Linked DNA regions of Homo sapiens. The protein of the gene in region 1 interacts with the protein of each later gene in a pairwise test. Each region holds a gene or a part of one and is shown on either strand. Other genes may lie near its edges.

What was found.
Region 2: the proteins of U2AF2 (region 1) and ZNF57 interact in binary tests that used the Homo sapiens proteins (3 or more experiments, as listed by UniProt).
Region 3: the proteins of U2AF2 (region 1) and splicing factor U2AF 35 kDa subunit-like protein interact in binary tests that used the Homo sapiens proteins (3 or more experiments, as listed by UniProt).
Region 4: the proteins of U2AF2 (region 1) and RBM10 interact in binary tests that used the Homo sapiens proteins (3 or more experiments, as listed by UniProt).

The regions. Positions count from the first base shown.
Region 1 is NC_000019.10:55,661,535-55,665,112, reverse strand, and holds part of U2AF2 (splicing factor U2AF 65 kDa subunit), read right to left. Parts: intron 3,343-3,578; exon of another isoform or gene 3,283-3,342; intron 2,612-3,282; coding exon 2,495-2,611; intron 1,508-2,494; coding exon 1,369-1,507; intron 1-1,368. UniProt on the Homo sapiens protein: Plays a role in pre-mRNA splicing and 3'-end processing. By recruiting PRPF19 and the PRP19C/Prp19 complex/NTC/Nineteen complex to the RNA polymerase II C-terminal domain (CTD), and thereby pre-mRNA, may couple transcription to splicing.
Region 2 is NC_000019.10:2,899,562-2,903,757, forward strand, and holds the start of ZNF57 (zinc finger protein 57), read left to right. Parts: upstream 1-1,366; 5' UTR 1,367-1,484; coding exon 1,485-1,487; intron 1,488-4,196. UniProt on the Homo sapiens protein: May be involved in transcriptional regulation.
Region 3 is NC_000021.9:6,489,219-6,492,796, reverse strand, and holds part of splicing factor U2AF 35 kDa subunit-like protein, read left to right. Parts: intron 1-504; coding exon of another isoform or gene 505-542; intron 543-599; coding exon 600-666; intron 667-3,578. UniProt on the Homo sapiens protein: Plays a critical role in both constitutive and enhancer-dependent splicing by mediating protein-protein interactions and protein-RNA interactions required for accurate 3'-splice site selection. Recruits U2 snRNP to the branch point.
Region 4 is NC_000023.11:47,169,173-47,172,750, forward strand, and holds part of RBM10 (RNA-binding protein 10), read left to right. Parts: intron 1-142; coding exon 143-326; intron 327-1,855; coding exon 1,856-2,086; intron 2,087-3,578. UniProt on the Homo sapiens protein: Binds to ssRNA containing the consensus sequence 5'-AGGUAA-3'. May be involved in post-transcriptional processing, most probably in mRNA splicing. Binds to RNA homopolymers, with a preference for poly(G) and poly(U) and little for poly(A).

The sequences.
Region 1 (3,578 bases):
GTAAAAAGTCCATGTCGATTGGGAGCATGTCAACATATATTACAGGCTCCAAAAGGTTAGCTGAATTTACCAAAACCCATGATGGAAAAGCACTGGGCTGAGCGCAGTGGCTCATGCCTGTAATCCCAACACTCTGGGAGACTGAGGTGAGCGGATCACTTGAGGTCAGGCGTCGGAGACCAACCTGACCAACATGGTGAAACCCACCCTCTACTAAAAATACAAAAATTAGCCAGACATGGTGGCAGGTGCCTGTAATCCCAGCTGCTCGGGAGGCTGAAGCAGGAGAATTGCTTGAACCCTAGAGGCGGAGGATGCAGTAAGCCGAGATCGTGCCACTGCATTCCAGCCTGGGTGACAGAGCGAGACTGTCTCAAAACAACAACAACAACAAAAAGAAAAGCACTGGAGGCCAGTGAGGGACCTAGCCCAAGTCCTGCCTGACACAGATGTGCCTCCGTCTGGGGCTCCACATCGCCTGCCCTGAAGAGCTGACTCAGTTCCTAAAGGGCTCCTCGAACAGTGAGTACCCGCCAGCAGAACCCCACCTCCTCCATGTCCCAGGCCTGAGACACAGCCGCACCCTGACAGGGCATCAGACAAGCCCTCCCTCAAATCCCATTCATCAGCTACAAGGGTCAGCCAACTATAGCCTGTGGGCTGACAGGGCCCATCACCTGGTTTTGCACATCCTGCAAGCTTTCTAAAGGGAGACCATTCTGTGGCCTGTGAGAAGCACAGGAAAGCCCAACCTCAGCAGCCACGCGTGTCGAGGTGTGCCGGCACACAGCCAGGCCCACGCACGCAGACACCGTCCGGCTGCTTTCACACACAGTGACATGGTCGCCAACCCCTGGTCTGCTATGTTACCTACCAATTACAGATGATGTTCAACACAGCTATGGGGAATGGCCCAGAACACAAGATTCAAGGCAAACACTAGGAGACAAAAACAAGTGAATACCCAGGTGCCAGACCCCACAGCAGCAGCTTTGCTGCCAACCGTCGACACACAGCAGCCCCGACGGGCACAGACTGAGCCCTCCAAGGTCCCACAGCCGCAACGCAGGCACGAGGTCCAGGCCACAAGCCCCTCGCTTCCCCAGCACCTTTGGTCTGATCCTGGCTCTGCCACGTACAAGCTGTGTGTCCTCAGCAGGTGACAGCTCATTCTCCCGGCCCTAGGCACCTTCTCTACCAGCAGGAGAGCACCCCACTCACAGAGACTTAGGGGAAGCAGGGAAAAGGCACCTATCTTCCACAGTACTTACACAACTTCCTAAGCCACTCCAGCTGGGCTGAAGGGATGGACAGGCCATGGGAACAGGACTGGGGGAGAAAGGGGCCCTTAATGGATCCCCCACTCACCAGGCACATAGACGGAGGGGTTCTCTGACATGCCAGGAAGCGGCTGGTAGTCGTGAGGCCTGCGGATCTTTAGTGACTGGCCCTGGAAGATGATGCCATCAAAGGCCATAGCCTGGGTAGTCTCGTCCACTGAGCGGAACTGAATGAAAGAGAAAGGAGTGGTGAGGGATGGGGGTCAGGGACTAGTACAGCCCCTAGTGTTCCAGGATTGGGATTTCCTCTTTCCTTTCACTCATGTGAACAAATACAACATGCCAGGCCCCAGGCTGGGCACTGGGAGTACAACAGACACGCATGTCCCTGCTGCCAGGAGCTCACACTCGACCATTAAAAACACCAGGCACCCAACACAAACACAGAGGCAAACACACAATTGCAGGCTGTGATGACACGGAAGAGGGACAAAGTGCTGAAAAGGGATGTTACGGGAAAGGTTAGTTGAACGGGGAGATGACAGTACTGGAGTCTTTCTGGTGAGGGGGACATTTCAGCCCATCTCCGGAGCAATGCAACTGCAAGTGGACTGCAGTGAGGCAAAGACAGAGTGAGAGGGACAGAGTGAGAGGGAGTGCTCAGACAGTGAGAGGGAGTGCTCAGAAATCTCTGCAGTAAGCTAACACTGCCCACACCTTCACAATACTTCATGAGAGTTATCAGTCCACCAAGAGTCGAAAATCAAAAACCAAGGCCTTTTCCCGACAGTTGAGAAACACAGACACAGAAGACTAGTTAGGAACATCAGTTAGCTGGGGTAACAGAAGACTAGTTAGGAACATCAGTTAGCTGGTGTAAAGAACTCTAGCCAAGCAGGCAGGAGCATGGTAGGTTCTGGGAAGGTCAGTGTGGCCAGAGTGCAGAGAGGACTGGGCCGGAATGGTCTGGAAAAGGCCAAAGAGGTCTACAGAGGCCAAACAGGCCTCTCAGGTCACACAGAAAGCAAATGGAAGGCAGAAAGTAGGATCAGATCTGTAATGCTATAACAGGGCTCACTTCAGCGACCGGGTGGAGAAGAGGCTGCAGAGGGCCTGGTGGAAACAGCACAAGGCAGCTCCACACAACATCAGCCTAAGGGCTGGGCCCTCACATCACACACGTTTCCTGGACCTCACTCACTCCCCCAGCTCACCTCCAAAAAGGCAAAATTCTTGTCCTGGTTAATCTGCACAGCCAACACTGGGTTGCCAGGGGCCTGGGTCAGCCCCCCCAGGCGCATCTGGGCGTTGAAGAAATCCATCATGGCCTCCTGCAGAGGGAATAGGAGACAAGGGGGGGGGCGGGGGAAGGGAGGTGGAGAGAGGAGGGGAAGGGTGAGAGAGGGAGACACAGAGGGGTTTGGGGGTAAGGGGAGAGGGATGAGGGGAGGGAGGAGGGGGGGAAGGAACAGTGGAATATGGGTGGGGGTGTAGAAGTCAATAGTAAGAACAGAAGCAAGAGAGAAAATGGGGAGGAAGCAGTAGCAAGAGACGGCCAAGGGCAGGCGATGGACAGGCGTTGGGGGACAGCCACAGGGGCCCCAAAAAATCAGGGGAAAGGAGAAGATTGTTCAAGAAAAGGCAGAGGGCATGATGACAACACAAAATGAAGAAAAACACGAAACACAAGAGATGAAGAGACAGAGCACACAGGAAGGGCCACCCAGTGGAGACAGACAGAAAAGTGGCAGGAAAGTAGAAAGGAAGTGGCAGGCAGGGGCAGAGACGAGCAAAGGACAGAAAGGGAGAGCAGGACAGAGACGAGCGAGGAGGAGGAAGTCAAGAGTGCAGGGGCAGGAGAGGAGGAGTGTAGGGAGGAGGGGCAGGGACGGGAGGGGAGGAGAAAAGAGTGATGTGGAGGAATCTGGCCCTGGAGTCCGGGGGCTGGTTTATCAAATGTAGCAAAGTGCAGGTTGAGAAAGTCAGAATGGACCTTACTTGCCTTCGACGATGGTAGCAAACTTTTTGTTGCTACGAGGGATCTCAGCCCCACAATATTTCACTTTAAAGAGAAATGGAAACAACTCTTTGATCTCGGGATTCTCAGGGGGTGCCACAGGAAGGGGTTGGGGAGAGGGGAGAGGGAAAAGGAGTGGTGGGGAAGGGGGAGGTCAGGGGCGATCAAAAATAAAAGAACAGCGACCATGGGAGGGACGTGGGGGAGAGGATAGGGGACAGGCGGCAGAGAACGAGAGGCGTGTCAGAAAAAAACTGAGGGGCAGCGTGCGTCTGTGTGTG
Region 2 (4,196 bases), about 53 Mb from region 1:
AGGTCAGGAGTTCAAGACCAGCTTGGCCAACATAGTGAAACCCCCGTCTCTACTAAAAATACAAAAATTAGCCGGACGTGGTGGCAGGCGCCTGTAATCTCAGCTACTCGGGAGGCTGAGGCAGGAGAATCGCTTTAACCCTGAAGGCGGAGGTTGCAGTGAGCCGAGATCACGCCACTGCACTCCAGCCGGGGCGACAGTGTGAGACTCCGTCTCAAAATAAAAAAATAAATAAAACAAAAAACAATGTCCAACAAAAAAACAAATCCAGCGAGGCCAGACAGGATAGGGGCTCCCTGGGGTCCGCCCATTTTCGGGATCAGGTGACTCGAGGTTTGGTCCTTATTTTAGTGCAGGCTCAGATGTCGGGGGCGAGCCAAAGTGCAGGGGCCTGTGGGAAGGACAGGAGGCTGGGAAACGTTTGGGTAAAAAAATCAGGACACTGGCCGTGCGCGGTGGCTCACGCCTGTAATCCCAGCACTTTGGGAGGCCGAGGCGGGCCGATCACGAGGTCAGGAGATCGAGACCATCCTGGCTAACACGGTGAAACCTCGTCTCTACTAAAAATACAAAAAAATTAGCCGGCGTGGTGGCGGGTGCCTGTGTCCCAGCTACTCGGGAGGCTGAGGTAGGAGAATGGCCTGAACCCGGGAGGCGGAGCTTGCAGTGAGCCGAGATGGCGCCACTGCACTCCAGCCTGGGCGACAGAGCGAGACTCCACCTCAAAAAAAAAAAAAAAAAAAAAAAAAAAAATCAGGACACTGACAGCACGTGCTCCAGCACGGGGCAGGGCCTCCATGGGGTCCGCGCCCACGCGGGGCAGCGCGGTGACGTCACGGCTGAGGACCCCGCCCCACGAAGGGCTCACCCCACGCGACCCACGCCGCTCGCTCGCCCCTCCCCTCCACGCAGCACTCCGGCTGCTCCGTGGGGAAACTGAGTCTGGACTTCTCGTGCCCGTTCGGGAGAAGGACGCGGGAGGCGCGGCCGAGCTGCGGGGAGAGGTTGGGCTCACCCCGGGCCAGAGCGAGTTCGCGCAAACGGGAGTGTCCACCGCTGGCGGGTCAGCCACTAGCGTTGGCTACGCGCCGGTCACTCGGGCGACAGGAGGCGGGGCGGCGCGGAAGTTATCTTCCAATCAGGTGCTCCGGGGGCGGGTCCGGAAAACTGTCCAATCAAGGCACGGGGCGGACACCGGGAAGCGGATTGCAGGTTTGCAGTAGTGTCCAATCGAAGGCCCCAGGGGTGAAGGGGGCGTGTCCAAAACGCTGTCCGCTCAGAGCGTTGAAAGGGCGGGGGCTTAGAGATTGTCCAATCAGGGCGCCGCTTCCTGAGCTCCGAGGCCCCGAGGGCGGGACGTTTCGTCCTCCCTGCCGCGCGTGCCCTGCCTACCACGAGCGGCCCGGGAGTACCTGTACCTTTCAGCTGCGCCGGCCGCGAGGCCACGGAGAGCTCGCCTTGGAGAGCCCAGGAGCAGGGGAGACATGGTGAGTGCGAGGCAGGAGCAGAGCCAGGGGACGGTCGGAGCGACGGGAACCGGCTGGAACCAGAGTCCGCCGAAGTCTGCGGCCGGGATTGGCTGAGGGACGCGCGGGGCGGCGCAGGACTAGCACCTGGGACCCGGGGACGCCATCACAGCGGCCGGGCTGGAGGACTGGGGGCAGTTTGGGGGGACGGAAGGGGCGGCAAGGAGCTTGGGGGTAACTTAGGGGGAGGCCTGGGCAGGAGGGGGGCTGGAGGTAGTTTGGGGGGACGGTAGGGGCGGTCAGGGGTCAGGGACCAGTTTGGGGGGACGGCAAGGGACGGTCAGCAGGTTGGGGATGTTACGCGTGTCCGTATAAGAGGTCACCTGAGCAGGCTTAGTGTGAGCCACAAGGCTGTTTACTCACTTGGGTGCAAGTGGGCTGAGTCTGAGAAAGGACTCAGCAAAGGGTGATGGGATTATTATTGGTTTTATTTTTTTATTTTTTTTATTTTTGGGACGGAGTCCCGCTCTGTCGCCAGGCTGGAGTGCAGTGGCGTGATCTCGGCTCACTGCAACTTCCGCCTCCCGGGTTCAAGCGATTCTCCTGCCTCAGCCTCCGGAGTAGCTGAGATTACAGGCGCCCGCCCTCACGCCCGGCTAATTTTTGTTTTTAGTAGAGACAGGGTTTCACCATGTTGGCCAGAATGGTCTCGATCTCTTGACCTTGTGATCCGCCCGCCTCGGCCTCCCAAAGTGCTGGGATTACAGGCGTGAGCCACCGCGCCCGGCAATCATTAGTCCTTATAGGTTTGGGACAGGCATCGGAGTTAGGAGCAGTTTTTTTGAGGACAGTTGGTGGGTGTTACAAAGTACATTCTCAAGGGCGGCGACGATGTTTCAAAGTACATTCACAAGGGCTTGGGGGATGTATTGTCACAAGGGCTGGGAGGAATATTACAAAGTACCTTCACAAGGGCGCGAGCGTGTATTGTCACAAGGGCGGGGTACATTCACAAGGGCGAGGAGGACGTATCGTACAAAGTACATTCACAAGGGCGGGGGAATATCACAAAGTACATTATCACAAGGGCGGGGGGCTTGACCATGGTGCGGCCAGCTCAGAGAACCTTACAGGGGACAGCTTGGGGGGATGGCAAGGGACGGCCTGGGGGTCAGAGGCAGTTTGGGGGACGACCTCAGCGGTGGGAGTTAGCTGCCCTGGGGGTTTTGTTGCAGGGTATCACTAATGCTGTGAAAGCTTTATTCGGGCAGCCGGTGTCAGTAAATGTACTGTACTGTTCTCCTGTTTGGCTTTTTTCTTCTCCTTAGTGACAATAGGAAAATGTTCAAGTGTGTTTTCTGCCTTCTGGTCCGTCAGGATAACACCTGTTTATCGTGGGGTACAGGCTAAGCATGGCCTAAGGAAGTCTCTCAGGAATATTCTGTCTCCCACCAGAATTGTAGAGAAAGTGTGCGCAGTTCCACATCTTATAGCAGCTAGAGATGGATTAAAATGTTCATAAAAATAGTAGTTTTTCAAATGCCAAAGCAATCAGACAAAAAATAATAGTTATTCTTCCATACAAGGTGCAGAGTTTGCGACAGTGTGTGATCGTGTTCCATTTCAGTTCAGCTAGACATGAGATTAATGCAAATTCTGCAAAAACCTGTAAAACTGAGGCGTGTTCCATTCTGGTTAGTTTCCAGTTTGTCACCAGGAGTATTGCTTCACTGATCCATCATCTGTTTGCTGACTGGGAAAAGCAGTTTCTGGCCATGTAAAGTCATAAAGACTGCCTTGGAACTCCCTTCCCCCACTTACACAAGGGGTGGAAAGCACTGATTCTGCTGCATTCTCACTCTACGGGATGAGGGTCTTTGTGGCATTTAAAGTGTAGCACCTGGAGCAGGGAGGTGAGCCCCAAGACCGGTGACTCCAGCTGAGCCCACAGTTGAGCCTGCACTGGAGGCCGCTGAGGGTGCAGCGGGGTCTGGCTGGGCAGCCTCCACTTGCTCAGTCCTCCTGCCTCGTAGAACAGCCGCAGCGGGAACTGTTCATGCTGATTGAGGCTGCTGAGCATGGGAAAGACGATTGTCCTGGAGATGTGCTTGTGGGCGTTTTAGCCTTTCTGAGGTTGCACCTGTGCTGTCTTGGAGCCGTTTCTAAGCAGTGGGTTTAGTTTATGCTTTAAGTGTTGTTTTTCTTTTTTGGAGACACTGTGTCTCCCAGGCTGGAGTACAGTGGCGTGATCTCCACACATTGTATCATCCGCCTCCCGGGTTCAAGCAATTCTCCTGCCTCAGCCTCCCGAGTAGCTGGGATTACAGGCACTTGCCACCACGACCGGCTAATTTTTATATTTTTAGTAGAGACGGGGTTTCGCCATGTTGGCCAGGCTGGTCTCAAACTCCTGACCTTAAGTGATCCACCCTCCTCCGCCTCCCAAAGTGCTGGGATTTCAGGCGTGAGCCACCGCGCCCGGCCTGGATTAAGTTTTAATATAAACACCAGTGGCCTTACTGCCCGCATAAATAGGCCTCCGGCCTCTCTTCAACACCTGTGTGCTGCTCCCAGCGCTCATCTCTGTTCTGCCCCCAGGGTAACCACTGTCCTGATTTTTTTTTTCATTCTCTCTACCTTTACCATTTATTATTTATCACCATACAGAGTTTTAATTTTGCCTCCTTTGAATTTTTTTTTTTTTTCAGGCAGGGTCTTACTCTGTCGCCC
Region 3 (3,578 bases), on another chromosome or scaffold:
CCGTCCATGTGAAACGGATTTCAACATTTTGAGCCATTCATTGGTCTTTACAGTGACTGAACCCCTGGCCTTTATTAAGTTCTTTGTGTAAAATTAAAACTCTTAGGAATATTAAGGAATCAATAAGGTAAGTTGCCCAGTAAGTGTGGGTTTTATTTCACCATTATAATTTTTCCTCCAGGAAGTGGAGATTTCATGATATGTAACAATTGTATTTCTCTAATACAGTAATTTTTTCCATCAGTTTATGTAAGCATTATTCTTTCCGAGTTCATTAAAAATTTTCTGCCACATCTAAGAACATTTTGGTGCTAGCCTGGCAAACTATTTGTGCTTTTACCTGAATTGGAATTTTGAAAAGGAGAGTTTTCACGTTCTGTAAGCAGAAGTACAAGATGGGCATATCATGAGACCTCCGTTACACCGCAGTGTTAGGGATTCAAGGCAGCCGCCAACTGAGAAAACGCCTCTGCTTCTCCAGAAAATAACTTGCTCTCTTTTCAGCACTGAATCTCAACTGAAGCACTTGCCAGAGGCAGCCGGTTAAGTGTTTACCTTTAATTTTCCATAATATAAAGTTGTTGCGTTTTGTATTTCAGACCATTGCCCTCTTGAACATTTACCGTAACCCTCAAAACTCTTCCCAGTCTGCTGACGGTTTGCGCTGTAAGTTCATACAAGTTCCTTCCCCGGTTCCCTGGGCTTGCGTGTCAGAGCTCAGTGTCCACTCCATCTGGTCTGCCGTGCTAGTGTCAAGGACCGCGTTTCACTAGAGGTGGCAAGGAGCTTTCGTCCCACTGACCCCATGGAAACCTCTTTTGGAGATTTGAACTCCCACCGTGTGTTAAAAGGGAAAAAGTAACTGGAAAGGGTGCCCTTTAAAACAGTCTAGAGCTGGGCCGGGCGCGGTGGCTCACGCCTGTAATCCCAGCACTTTGGGAGGCCGAGGCGGGTGGATCATGAGGTCAGGAGTTCAAGACCAATCTGGCCAACATGGTGAAACCCCATCTCTACTAAAGATACAAAAATTAGCTGGGCGTGGTGGCAGATGCCTGCAATCCCAGCTTCTAGGGAGGCTGAGGCAGAGAATCGCTTGAACCCGGGAGGCGGAGGTTGCAGTGAACTGAGATCGTGCCGCTGCACTCCAGCCTGGGCGACAGAGTGAGACTCCGTCTCCAAAAAAAAAAAAAAAAAAAAAAAACCAGTCTGGAGCTGCTGCTGCCCCTTCTTCCTTTACTTTGGCCGTCATCCTAGAGGGAATGTACTGGAATTAAACGTCGAGTCATATTCTTCCCTCTTAGAGCAACAAAATTTGAATGTTTCTCTCACTTTCTGGAATTTTTAAAAAGCAAACTTTTTAAGTTATTTTTTCAGATTTTATTTCTCATTAGCCTTTTTTCCTTGAACTCCATTTTGGAGTGCACCCTGTAGTTGTAAGAGCATTGTGCTGAGAGCGTTCCCCAAATGAGGGTCTGCAGCTTGCACTGACCCCTGAGTTCCTCACCCACCAGCCCCGTGCCGACCCGTCTAACCCGTGTGGGGGTGCTCCACTCAAATAGGCCCTTGGCAGAAAAGATTGTCCGTTCTGTCCACACACTGCCTGGATACAGTCTCCAGCTCTAGGAGATGGAATTGGTTTGCTCCATTTAGAAATAGATCAAAACTGGGCATTCAGTAGATGGTACCAATATCTTCCTGTACTGGGAAATACTAAATTTAGATTGTGAATATTTACCTAATGATAATTTTTAGAGAAGGAGATATCATAGATGAGTATGATTGGGAAGTTCAGAAAACTAAAATTTGATTTTTACAGCCATCCAACTATAGAATCATTAGAATTTAGTCATTTATGGATAAATTAAAATGAACACCTGGACTCTTGTTAAAATCAGAAAGTCCAAACCAAAGATAGGCACTTCCCATTCACCATTCTGTTTTAAAGCAGTAAAAATTGAGGTGCCCTTGGATATCCACAAGCCTAAATTGAGTACACCCTTGAACCAGAGCCCCTCAGTTAATGGGGTGACCGACATGGGGTAGCTGATCCCAGGGGGCATTCCCCTCTCGAGCTGGCCCTGCACTGGGTGGCCTGGGGATTGTGCTTCCTTGCACAGTGGTGCACATTTCTATGTGTGGATGAGATTTTCTTGTCAACTTTTCCTGCCAAGACACTAAATGCTTTTCAGTGCTAATACTGACCTGATAGTAGAGATTTCTTTCCCTGAGTCGGATGGTAGCAGGATTTACTTGGTAACCCTTGGTTTAAAATACCTGTTTTTTTGTTTGTTTGTTTTCTTTTGTTTTTTAAGGAAATAAGATCAATAGGCGGAGGGAAATTGTTTCTATATGCACTTATTAAATAATTTTTGTTAACAACCCTGCCCTGGGATAAAAGTGAATGGAAGTACATGACTGAGTAACAGTAATTAATTCTTTGCCCTGATCGTTTATTTGGGGACTGTATATGCTTTCTTGACTGACAATAGAATGTTGTATTAGTTTTCATTGTGTCTTTATTTGCAGTTCACAGCACTTTTGTTTTCCATATGCTACAAACTAAAAGTTTAGCAATTACGTTATATTCCAATTCTGGAGTCCAGATTGTACAAATTAGATGAAATTCTAATTCGTCATTTTAGGAAGAAATCAATTACCTAAAATTACTGGCTCTTTTCAACATACCCTTTAGTATGTAAAAAAATAAGCTTCAAATGCGTGGGTTAAAGTTAACTATCAATCCCAGTTTAAGAATGATATTTCTGTAAGAAAACTGCTTTATTTTCCAAGTTGTAGTATTTAACATAGGCTGAGTCACAAATAAGTTTTTAATTGTATCTTAATGCAGTTGTCTCTGCCTTTCAAGTCACTTTGATTGAAACATTTTAAGCAGAACAAATATAGCCAATAATTTAAAATAATCACCCCAAAACCATTTCTCAAACCTGCTAAAACTTTGAGCATGTGAATAATTTTCTCCTCTTCACATTCTTCTTATGTGGGAAGGAAGTGAATTTGAAATATTAAAATCTGCCCTTTGGAATAGGCTACTTTGGCCGTTTATAACTTGATTTCTACTCGGGGAGGAAGGTACATTCCCAATAGCTTTCCAATTGGGATATCCTGTGATATGATTGGCAGGCTGTCCGAGTAGTTACACTTAATAAAATTTGGGTTCGAAAGCAGATTCCTGGAAGTTCAAAAATAATTAAAACAGCCCCGGATAGGTTAGAAAGTGAACTTAAATCATTCTCAGAATTAGAAAATAAGAAGTTATTTTTTATCTTCAAAGATAAAAAGGGGGCCGGGCACGGTGGCTCACACCTGTAATCCCAGCACTTTGGAAAGCCGAGGCAAGTGGATCACGAGGTCGAGAGATTGAGACCATCCTGGCCAACATGGTGGAACCCCGTCTCTACTAAAACTACAAAAATTAGCCAAGATCACGCCATTGCACTCCAGCCTGGAGACAGTGAGACGCTGTCTCAAAAAAAAAAAAAAAAAAAGATAAAAAGAGTTTTGAGCAAGCTCAAAGACCCGTGTGCCAGCAGTCAGATGCCCACGTTGGGTGCACAGGC
Region 4 (3,578 bases), on another chromosome or scaffold:
GATAGGATCAGAAGGGCACCTCACTTCTGTTGTATGCTCCTCCAAAAAAACCAAAACCCTACGAGAACACATCACCTGGGCCTCTTGCACCTTTTAGAAAGGGCAACCTTCTGATCCCTCCCCATCCTTCTTCCTCCACTAGTGGTGGTCGTGGTGACAGGACTGGCCGCTATGGAGCCACTGACCGCTCGCAGGATGATGGTGGGGAGAACCGCAGCCGAGACCACGACTACCGGGACATGGACTACCGTTCATATCCTCGCGAGTATGGCAGCCAGGAGGGCAAGCATGACTATGACGACTCATCTGAGGAGCAGAGTGCGGAGGTGAGGAGGGGGCGCGCTGCGCCAGGCCTGGCTGGGATGGGCTCCCAAGGGCCCTCTGTGTCTGGCTGCAGCACCGTGTGCAGGCAGCTCTCCACTCCCGTGCCTTCAGACTGTGCTCGGTGGCTTTGCCTCACCTGGAGGGCCTGTTCCCACTCCCCTCTCTGAGGGCTCCTCTCCCAACCTGGGTCTCCCTGGCTTCCACATGCTTGGCTCTGTACTTCTGAGGGCCCCTGGCCACCACTCTTTCCCTTTCTCCCTGTTGTTCAGTTCGGGCCCATGGCTCACTGTGAACCCTGTACTGCCCGCTCCCAGCCAACTTGGGCACTTGAAGAGCCTCTTCCATGGGACCCGGCGTCTGGGGTTGGGAGGACAACAAGGGGACTGCAGACCACCAAGCTGAGGAGCTCTGGGAGGCCAGCCATGGGCATTCCCAGTGGTGATAGAGCCCCTAGACAGAAGGGAAGGACCCTTCTGGAGAAGCCAGTGCCATGTTGGGTAGTTCACCCTAGCCTGCGGGATGAGGCGCGATGTTTACACCATCAGGGAGCCCCCACCCGAGGGGAAGAAACAGGCTTGCCTTAGGGGAATCCCAGTTGGAGGGGCAGTCAGGGACCTGGTCCATGCGAGCAGGCAGCTCTCCTGTCCAGCAGGCTGGGAAGGGAGTTCTTGCAAGCCCAGCCCTGGGGGGCAGTCTGTGAGCTGCCCACTGCCCTCTGGAGGGTCCAGGGCAAAAACCCCTTTGGTGGACTGCCAGGCTTCTCCAGTGGCAGCTGTCAAGCTGTGCCCAGACGTCTCCAGGAGCACTGGGCCCTGGCCAGGGTGGGAATGGAGCACCAAGTTATCTGGTGCTTCCCCACTGTGGGCGGGAGGGCTTTGGCCCCAGGCCTGCTCTGCTTAGTCCTGGAATGGATGGATTGGGCAACAGCCCAGAGCCCAACAGCCATACCGTTTTGAGCGTGGTGTGTGGTGGAGGACTGGCCAAGGCTGAGGATCAGGGACTGAGGAGGGAGTGTCTGCAGCCCTCACACCACCTCCACCAGCTCCTGCTGCCTGGCTCTGGCTGAGATCTGAAGCTGTTCTTATGCCCCCAGCTTGGTTGCAGGGTGGAACCGTAGGAGACATGCAGCCTTCGGTGGTACAGTGAAGCAATTGAGCACACCCCCTGAGCTGGCCAGAGAGGAGAGGAAAATCAAGGGTGGGGTCTGGTGTGCTGACCCCAGGCCATCTTGCCCCAAGGAGGTTTAAGCTGTGTCTTGTCAGCTACCTTTGGGAGTTCCCCCCACACCAATACTGTCACCTACCTCTCCCCACCCACTGAAGGCAGCCCCCAAAAGGACCCCATGGAGAATTTACAGTCCCAGAAAGATTGCAGGCCGGGGCCTGCCCACCCTGCCTGCCTGAGCCTTTAGCCGGAGCCCGCACATCCCTGGCTTTCAGAGCCTGCCTGCCTCACAGAGCCAGCGGCCAGCTCCTAGGCCTGCCCAGACTGACTGCCCGTCTGGTGTCACTCATCTCATTCTGTCGGCCAGGATTCCTACGAGGCCTCCCCGGGCTCCGAGACTCAGCGTAGGCGGCGGCGGCGGCACAGGCACAGCCCCACCGGCCCGCCAGGCTTCCCCCGAGACGGCGACTATCGGGACCAGGACTATCGGACCGAGCAAGGGGAGGAGGAGGAGGAGGAGGAGGATGAGGAGGAGGAGGAGAAGGCCAGTAACATCGTCATGCTGAGGATGCTGCCACAGGCAGCCACTGAGGATGACGTACGTGCCCCCCATGGCCCCGGGCAGGAGGCCAGGCTGGGTCTCCTCCAGGGCCCTCAACTTCTCCCCACCCCTCCCTCACCTGCAACCTCAGCGCCTTTCATCCCTTCTCCCCCTCCAGCTCCTATCCCCCAGCACTGATCCGTCCTCTGTGGGCAGGTCCCATCGGCCCCCCGGTCTGGAGGGAGGAGTGTCAGAGAGGCCGGCTTGGCCAAGGGACATTGGCCATGGGTGTCTGGTAGTGGTGGGTATGGGCGGGAGAAGAGCAGTCCTGCACATTCCACTGGTCATCCAGCCATTTTGCATGTGTGCATCATGGGCCAGACGCTCACCGGGCCAGTGCTGGCTATTGCTGGTAGCAGAGATGACACTGGGGCCCTGTAACCATTGGGGGAGGGATGGGATTTTCTGAAATTTCCTTCTCTTTTTCCCCCATCCTTTTTTGTCAGCAGCCTGGCCTGGCCTCAGAGCCTTGGGTGGCTGCTAACAGCCTCCACGCCTGCCTCCCTTTCCTCCTGTTTCCTTTTCATACATACTTCTCATGACAGCCACACTGAAGCCCCACGAGGCCTACCAGAATAACCTCCAAGAATAGTGTCCTGATCTTGGTCCTTCTTAGTCTACTCCGCCGCCCCTCACCCCCTACCCCCATGAATTCTCTGATCAGCCCTCCTCTGAAATCTGCTAGCTGCTCATTTTGTAACAGAGAAAATCCCACTTGTGTATTTGAGGGTTTCTAAGGTCTGGCCCACCTGCCCTGTTCAGGGTCAGACAGTAGCTGGTTGCTGACATTTGTTGAGAATGTATCTCAGGGTGGGCCATGTGTTAGGTATGATTCAGTCCCCATGGCAGCCCAGCAGGGAAGGTACTCTTTGTATTCCATCCTTCGGATGAGGAAACCAAGCCCTGAGTGGGAATGTGACTTGCCCCAGGTCTCATAGCCAGTGAGTGGCAGAGCAGAGCTGGAGTCTGAACCCGGGCAGCTGGACCCTAGAGCCCACTTTTTGCTGCTTCCTCAGCCTTCCCTGAGTTTGGAGTCCTGATAAGCTCTTCTGTGTGTTTTTCCTTTTCACCCTGTGTATGGGTGTGTGTAAGGCTAATGTCCTGTCTGTTGTTTAACCTGGTGGGGAAACTGAGGCCCAGAGACATGAAGACTCCTTCCCAAGAATGGCTGGCATAGGCTCCTGGTCCTCAGTGAGAGACCTCACTGGCCTAGAGACCCTGCCTCACCTGGGCCAAATCCTGAATTGCCTCTGCAGTTTCCCTCTGGCCTACTCCATCTGGGAAGCAATCCCCAGGACTACATCTTTTTGCTTTTTGTCTCCACCCTAAGTTATTGCTACAGTCATGGTCTAGGGCACATGGCTGGGATTTGCTCAGACTCCTGTCCTCCCCAGTTTGACATTTATGTCATGGATCTCTTTTGACGCAAGCTGCAGGTCAGCAGGGCAGGGGCGGGGGTGCGGGTTATCCCCTTGCCAAGGGCAAGAAT